Linked DNA regions of Homo sapiens. The protein of the gene in region 2 interacts with the protein of the main gene of each other region in a biochemical or structural test. Each region holds a gene or a part of one and is shown on either strand. Other genes may lie near its edges. The genes, in order: PPP1CC and SFRP2.

Region 1 (3,682 bases), on a different chromosome or scaffold from region 2:
CCAAATGTGAAGGACACTCCTCTGTCATTTTCACCCCAGCCTAAGACATCTTTATCGGGGTCAGACCACAAAAGATCACAAAGAAGACCTTGATCTGGTACATCAGTTGGTCGCATAATTCGCCGAATCTGCTCCATAGATTGAAGATCTGGTGATAAACCTATTCAATGAGGAAAAAAAAAAAATGAAGAAAGCAGAACTTTTAAAAGGATACTACCCCTTCAAAAGTTCCATTTGTCTACAGAGAAATTCAATAATCCTGACATAAAAACTGAAATCTATGATTATATTTTATTTACTTTTGGTTAAAAGAAAAAAACACAGAAAAAGGACAACTGGATACACACTAGAATTACATGCAGTAATGCATGGGGTGCAGTAGGTTTAAACAGTACATGGAAACAATTATATTATACAGAACACTGTAAAATAAAATCCAGTGATTTAAAAAACTCTTCTATGGGCTTCCCCCAGTTGATGACAATAATGAGCGATGTTATGATTGATGGCTTATAATGACTGAGCTGAGAAGATAAGGATGCTCAGTGTGAGGTAGTTCTCTAGGAAACCTGCACTGTTCACAGACCATTAAAATCTACAAGAGCTTATTGTATCGAGTTACAATATGGGATGCATATTGTAAGAGTTAAAAACCATGTATCCAACTCTACCAAAACCTAAGTACAGAAGCACAGAGATAAAAGACATTATGCAGGCTTTTTGATGGCTAAAATCTACAAGAGCTTATTGTATCGAGTTACAATATGGGATGCATATTGTAAGAGTTAAAAACCATGTATCCAACTCTACCAAAACCTAAGTACAGAAGCACAGAGATAAAAGACATTATGCAGGCTTTTTGATGGCTGATTAATTTCAGACCATACAGGAAAAGAAATTCTCTTTGCAATTACTATTTTAATTACATTATAGAAAGCACAACCACTGAGCAAAGCAAAACAGCTTATAACATATATATGTATATATTTTCAGAGATAGGGTCTTGCTCTGTTGCCTAGGCTGGAGTGCAGTGGTGCGATCATAGCTCACTGCAGCCTTAAACCCCTGGGTTCAAGCGATCCTCCCGCCTCAGCCTCCCAAATAGCTACGGCTACAGGTGTGCACCATTACACCTGGCTAACTTTTACAACTTTTTCTAATGACAGGGGTCTCGATATGTTATAGGCTGTTCTCATATTCATGGCATCAAGCAATCCTCCTGGCTTGGCCTCTCCAAAGTGCTGGAATTACAGATGCGAGCCACTATGCCTGGCCAAAATAACTTTTAAAATCCAAGTCAGAGAAAGTTCTGAGAGGATAAAAAACAATCAAGGGAAAATCTACTCACATCTTGAGTGTTCTAGAGGATCTCTGGCACAACAAATTACACATTGTTCATTTTATAGTTAAAAACACTCTTCTGCCGGGCGTGGTGGCTCAAGTCTGTAATCCCAGCACTTTGGGAGGCCGAGGCGGGCAGATCACGAGGTCAGGAGATTGAGACCATCCTGGCTAACACGGTGAAGCCCCGTCTCTACTAAAAATACAAAAAATTAGCCAAGCGTGGTGGCGGGTGGCTGCAGTCCCAGCTACTCAGGAGGCTGAGGCAGGAGAATGGCGTGAACCTGGGAGGCAGAGCTTGCAGTGAGCCGAGATGGTGCCACTGCGCTCCAGCCTGGGTGAGAGAGCGAGACTCTGTCTCAAAAAACAAAAACAAAAACAAAAAAAACCAAAAACTTTTCTAAGCCGGGCACAGTGGCTTACACCTGTAACCCAGCACTTTGGAAGTCCGAGGCAGGAGGACTGCTTGAGCCCAGGAATTTGTGACCAGACTGGGCAACGTGGTGAGAACTCATCCTTACAAAAAATAAAATAAAAATAAAAATTTTCTGCTCTATTTTCAAACCTAGCTTACAGAGTCTAGAATTCCCTGTAATAAATCAATTCCTTAAGATTTTTATCCAAATGATCCTGGCTGTATCAGAGTGAAAGTGCAATGCAACACATCAACAAAGGAGAGTGTTCTGTCAGAGAAAGTCATCCCAATGATAACTCACAAATGTTAAAGTGTTCACCCTTTGGAAGGGATCAAAACCTATTTGGAACAAAAATCAGCCCACCTACCTCCATGACAGCAGAATATCTTCTCATCCACGATGGCTGCTATCGGTAAACAGTTAAAACAGTCTGTGAAAGTTTTCCATAGTTTAATGTTGTATCTTCTTTTACCTGTGATTAAAAAGAGAGTATTACATTAAAAAGAGAGTATTACTGTTCCGTAGGCTCATTCTCTCAGGATTAACTTCCCCCAAAGCAAGATTCTGGGTGCCTTTTAAGCAAATGAAACTATGTTTTTATTAAGAATCTTAATAAAACCATCTTATTTTAAGGCTCTTTTAAAATAAGAGCTGGGCGTGGTGGGTCAGACCTGTAATCCCAGCACTTCGGGAGGCTGAGGTAGGAGGATGGCTTGAGCCCAGGAGTTCAAGACCATCTTGGGCAACATAGTGAGACCCCATCTCTTTAAAGAAAGACTCTCCTAGAGGGAAGGGGTTTAGGAGAGACACATATCTGATCTAAAAGCAATGACTTACATTTTCACATGAAATCTTTTTAAATTCCACAGAAGCATGAAACCAGAATTCCAGATTTGATAATGATTAAGGACTGCCATCAAATCCCAGGAATTATCTGGGAGCATCAATTCTGTTTGAAATTGTCTGCTCTGTCCAATCTCACCGCAGCTAGTCCCCTACTTCTGAATTCAATTACGAACTTACACATGTGGCGTTATGACCTTCCTTCTGAGGAAACCTGAGAGTTAGCACCCATCCCCCATATATGCCCCTCAATAACCTACTGACACCAGAGGATCCCCAGCCCTCAGTACTCTAGCAGGAGGCACAATGATCACACGGCAGTGGCTGCCTCTCACAGGCACTACAGGGCATTTGTTTCCAACACTGCACAGACTCCACATGCTCCCACAGGCCTGATGTCACAGGATGGTCATGTTCCCTCAACAGCACAGGCATCCACACATTCTGGAGTCAGAGTGCAGTTCTGACAGAAATATGCCTCTATGCACTGTTTCTACAGGAAACTGATGTTCTGAGTTTAAAACCTAGTCACATACCTTGCAAGAACAAATTTCTCTGGATTGGTTGAGGATTGTCCAATTGTCCAGATGCCTTTGTTTCCTGTACTTACTATACTAAGCACAATCTTTAAAAACCAGGAGTTTGGCCAGGCGCGGTGGCTCACACCTGTAATCCCAGCACTTTGGGAGGCCGAGGCGGGCAGACCATCTGAGGTTGGGAGTTTGAGACCAGCCTGACCAACATGAAGAAATCCCGTCTCTACTAAAAATATAAAAATTAGCTGGGCGTGGTGGCGCATGCCTGTAATCCCAGCTACTTGGGAGGCTAAGGCAGAAGAGTCACTTGAACCTGGGAGGCGGAGGTTGCGGTGAGCCTTGATTGTGCCATTGCACTCCGGCTTGGGCAACAAGAGCGAAACTCCGTCTCAAAAAACAAAACAAAACAAACAAAACAAACCAAGAGTTTGTCCTTAGTCTCTTTTCCTGGGGAATACAGGGACATCTAAAGGTTTAAACCTATACCTCTCCTTTGAGAGTTAGAGCCAGCCCAAGCAACTGACCTGAACCACACCTCCCACCCTG
Region 2 (3,323 bases):
CATACCAGACAAAACCATGGTTGGCCAAGTCATAGCATTTTTGATTTACCTGCTAGAGATTCTATAATTTCCTGGTTGACTAGAAAGCCATACTCAGTCAAATTCCCATTCTGATATTTAAAAAAAAAAAAAAGAAAATCTCAAAAACAGTTGTACGCAACACAGAAAAATCTTCCTCTATTACTAATTTAAACATAGATTAAACTCCATCAAAGTCAGGAAGTCATACTTACACATCATCTATACAGAATAGCTGTCAGGGGCACACAGGGTCTTAGGACACATTGCAGCTGGGCAAGTTTATGCTGCAACCACTACAAAAACATGGACATTGCCTCAAGACACCACAGTGGTATTACAGGAGGAGGTTTGGCAACTGGAGTTCTAGCAAACAACCTAAACTGGGTGACCTCATGCAAGTCACTAAACTTCTCTGGATTTAAGATTCTTTGTGTATTAACAAGCAATTTTAATGGGATGATCCCTTCTAACCTTAAAATTCTATTCTTTTCCTGCTTTCATGGAGTCTTGAAATTTAATTCCAGCATACACGTTTGTAGGGCTTTCTTTCCCAGAGCATACTGTTCATGACTATAAAACGTGTCCTTTATAGTAAACCACTTACTTTTGGTCTTCGCATTCTAACGAGTCTACATATACATTTTGGAAACAGTACATATATGATCCGTAAACGCCTTGGCCTTGGACTGGCAAATGAGAGCATATAAGGATGAGGTCTTCAGAAAAACACTTTTATGACTAACCACGTTGTGCTGTTAAAAAGAGACTTGCATATTGTTTCTCCTGCTTTACCAAATCAAATGCAGCTGTAAGATCAATTCTCCTTCCCTGTAATCTGATCTTTAGAAAACAATGATTGCGTGACACAGTTTCCTTACAGGTTTGTCCAAAAACCTCTTGCATAATAAATTGAGTTTAAACTTTACGGCCACAGAGGGATCATATTTCACCTAAAAGTCAGGCATTTCTTTTCATGCTTAAGTTTCCAACAGAGGAAGTCATTTGTTGGAGAGAGCACACACCACATGCAACTTTCTTACAAACACAAGGGTGAGTGAGGAAAGGAGAAGAAAAGTTAATTGAGTCCCGCAAAGAGAGAGTTTTGAAAAAATGGCTGATTGGAAACCAAGTGCCTGGCAAATGCTTTGAGGCTTTAGCAGTGGAGCCACCTGCTGCCCCTAGCTCCCAACCCCCGATCTGCAGCCTCTGAGGGTCCCATTAGCTCTAGGAAGCCTCTCTTTCCTCATCCAGGCCAAGTCACACGAGTTGGCAGAATGGGGGGAGGTATACTGTATTCCCTCATTATAACTGGCATGACTCTTTCTGCCCTCCCTCATAGCACTGAAAATAAAAGTGAAGGAGATAACCTACATCAACCGAGATACCAAAATCATCCTGGAGACCAAGAGCAAGACCATTTACAAGCTGAACGGTGTGTCCGAAAGGGACCTGAAGAAATCGGTGCTGTGGCTCAAAGACAGCTTGCAGTGCACCTGTGAGGAGATGAACGACATCAACGCGCCCTATCTGGTCATGGGACAGAAACAGGGTGGGGAGCTGGTGATCACCTCGGTGAAGCGGTGGCAGAAGGGGCAGAGAGAGTTCAAGCGCATCTCCCGCAGCATCCGCAAGCTGCAGTGCTAGTCCCGGCATCCTGATGGCTCCGACAGGCCTGCTCCAGAGCACGGCTGACCATTTCTGCTCCGGGATCTCAGCTCCCGTTCCCCAAGCACACTCCTAGCTGCTCCAGTCTCAGCCTGGGCAGCTTCCCCCTGCCTTTTGCACGTTTGCATCCCCAGCATTTCCTGAGTTATAAGGCCACAGGAGTGGATAGCTGTTTTCACCTAAAGGAAAAGCCCACCCGAATCTTGTAGAAATATTCAAACTAATAAAATCATGAATATTTTTATGAAGTTTAAAAATAGCTCACTTTAAAGCTAGTTTTGAATAGGTGCAACTGTGACTTGGGTCTGGTTGGTTGTTGTTTGTTGTTTTGAGTCAGCTGATTTTCACTTCCCACTGAGGTTGTCATAACATGCAAATTGCTTCAATTTTCTCTGTGGCCCAAACTTGTGGGTCACAAACCCTGTTGAGATAAAGCTGGCTGTTATCTCAACATCTTCATCAGCTCCAGACTGAGACTCAGTGTCTAAGTCTTACAACAATTCATCATTTTATACCTTCAATGGGAACTTAAACTGTTACATGTATCACATTCCAGCTACAATACTTCCATTTATTAGAAGCACATTAACCATTTCTATAGCATGATTTCTTCAAGTAAAAGGCAAAAGATATAAATTTTATAATTGACTTGAGTACTTTAAGCCTTGTTTAAAACATTTCTTACTTAACTTTTGCAAATTAAACCCATTGTAGCTTACCTGTAATATACATAGTAGTTTACCTTTAAAAGTTGTAAAAATATTGCTTTAACCAACACTGTAAATATTTCAGATAAACATTATATTCTTGTATATAAACTTTACATCCTGTTTTACCTATTCTTTGTCTTCTGTCTTGTCTTCTTAGTAAAAGGAACTGGGAATGGAGCTATGTATGGGTGGTCACTTCCTTCCATGAGCCCAGCCCTCCAGCAGTTTAAAGTGATCTACTTCTCAAGTGACTCAGAAAGTGTCTCCCCCTCCACCACCATGCCCCACATCTCACAGATTTCACCACTTTCACCCTGTGGAAGCAGCGACTTGCAGCCTCTAGAAAGGGGTTGCCTTCTTTTGACCCTTCTGAGCAGTCCAGCTGCAGCTATGTGGAAACATTACCCTAAACTTAAGGTTTATGAGCTTTACAGTTGTGCTTTTCATTTCCTGAGATTTTTCATACCGAAAAAGAATCACCACTGCAAAAATGTTAATTCCTTCCCCGACTCAAATCTAACCCTCAGATAGAGAGAGCCATGATTTGGAGAGTATCCACTGGAATGCAAGGAGGAGGAAGGGGATGGTGAAAACTTGAACTAGGGTAAAAAAGGAGAGACAGACATCTGTCCATTAAATGTCTCTTAGTCCTTTCCAACTGCTATAACAAAATACCATATACTGGGTAGTTTATAAACAACAGAAATTTACTTCTGACAGTTCCAGAGGCTGCAAAGTCCAAGATCAAGGTGGCGGCAGATTTTGGTGTCTAATGAGGGCTTTCTGCTTCACAGATGGTGCCTTCTTGCTGTGTCCTCACGTGGCAGAAAGGGTGAACAAACTCCCTCTAGCCTATTTTAAAAGGGCACTAATCCTATTCATGGGGCTCAACCTTTGGTCATGTTTTGAGGAGTTAGCAGCTCTGGC

The links.
Region 1: the proteins of SFRP2 (region 2) and PPP1CC form a complex in vitro, tested with the Homo sapiens proteins (one study listed by BioGRID).

What each region holds. Positions count from the first base shown.
Region 1 is NC_000012.12:110,722,536-110,726,217, forward strand, and holds part of PPP1CC (serine/threonine-protein phosphatase PP1-gamma catalytic subunit), read right to left. Parts: intron 2,230-3,682; coding exon 2,125-2,229; intron 161-2,124; coding exon 1-160. UniProt on the Homo sapiens protein: Protein phosphatase that associates with over 200 regulatory proteins to form highly specific holoenzymes which dephosphorylate hundreds of biological targets.
Region 2 is NC_000004.12:153,779,793-153,783,115, reverse strand, and holds the end of SFRP2 (secreted frizzled-related protein 2 precursor), read left to right. Parts: intron 1-1,360; coding exon 1,361-1,665; 3' UTR 1,666-2,525; downstream 2,526-3,323. UniProt on the Homo sapiens protein: Soluble frizzled-related proteins (sFRPS) function as modulators of Wnt signaling through direct interaction with Wnts. They have a role in regulating cell growth and differentiation in specific cell types.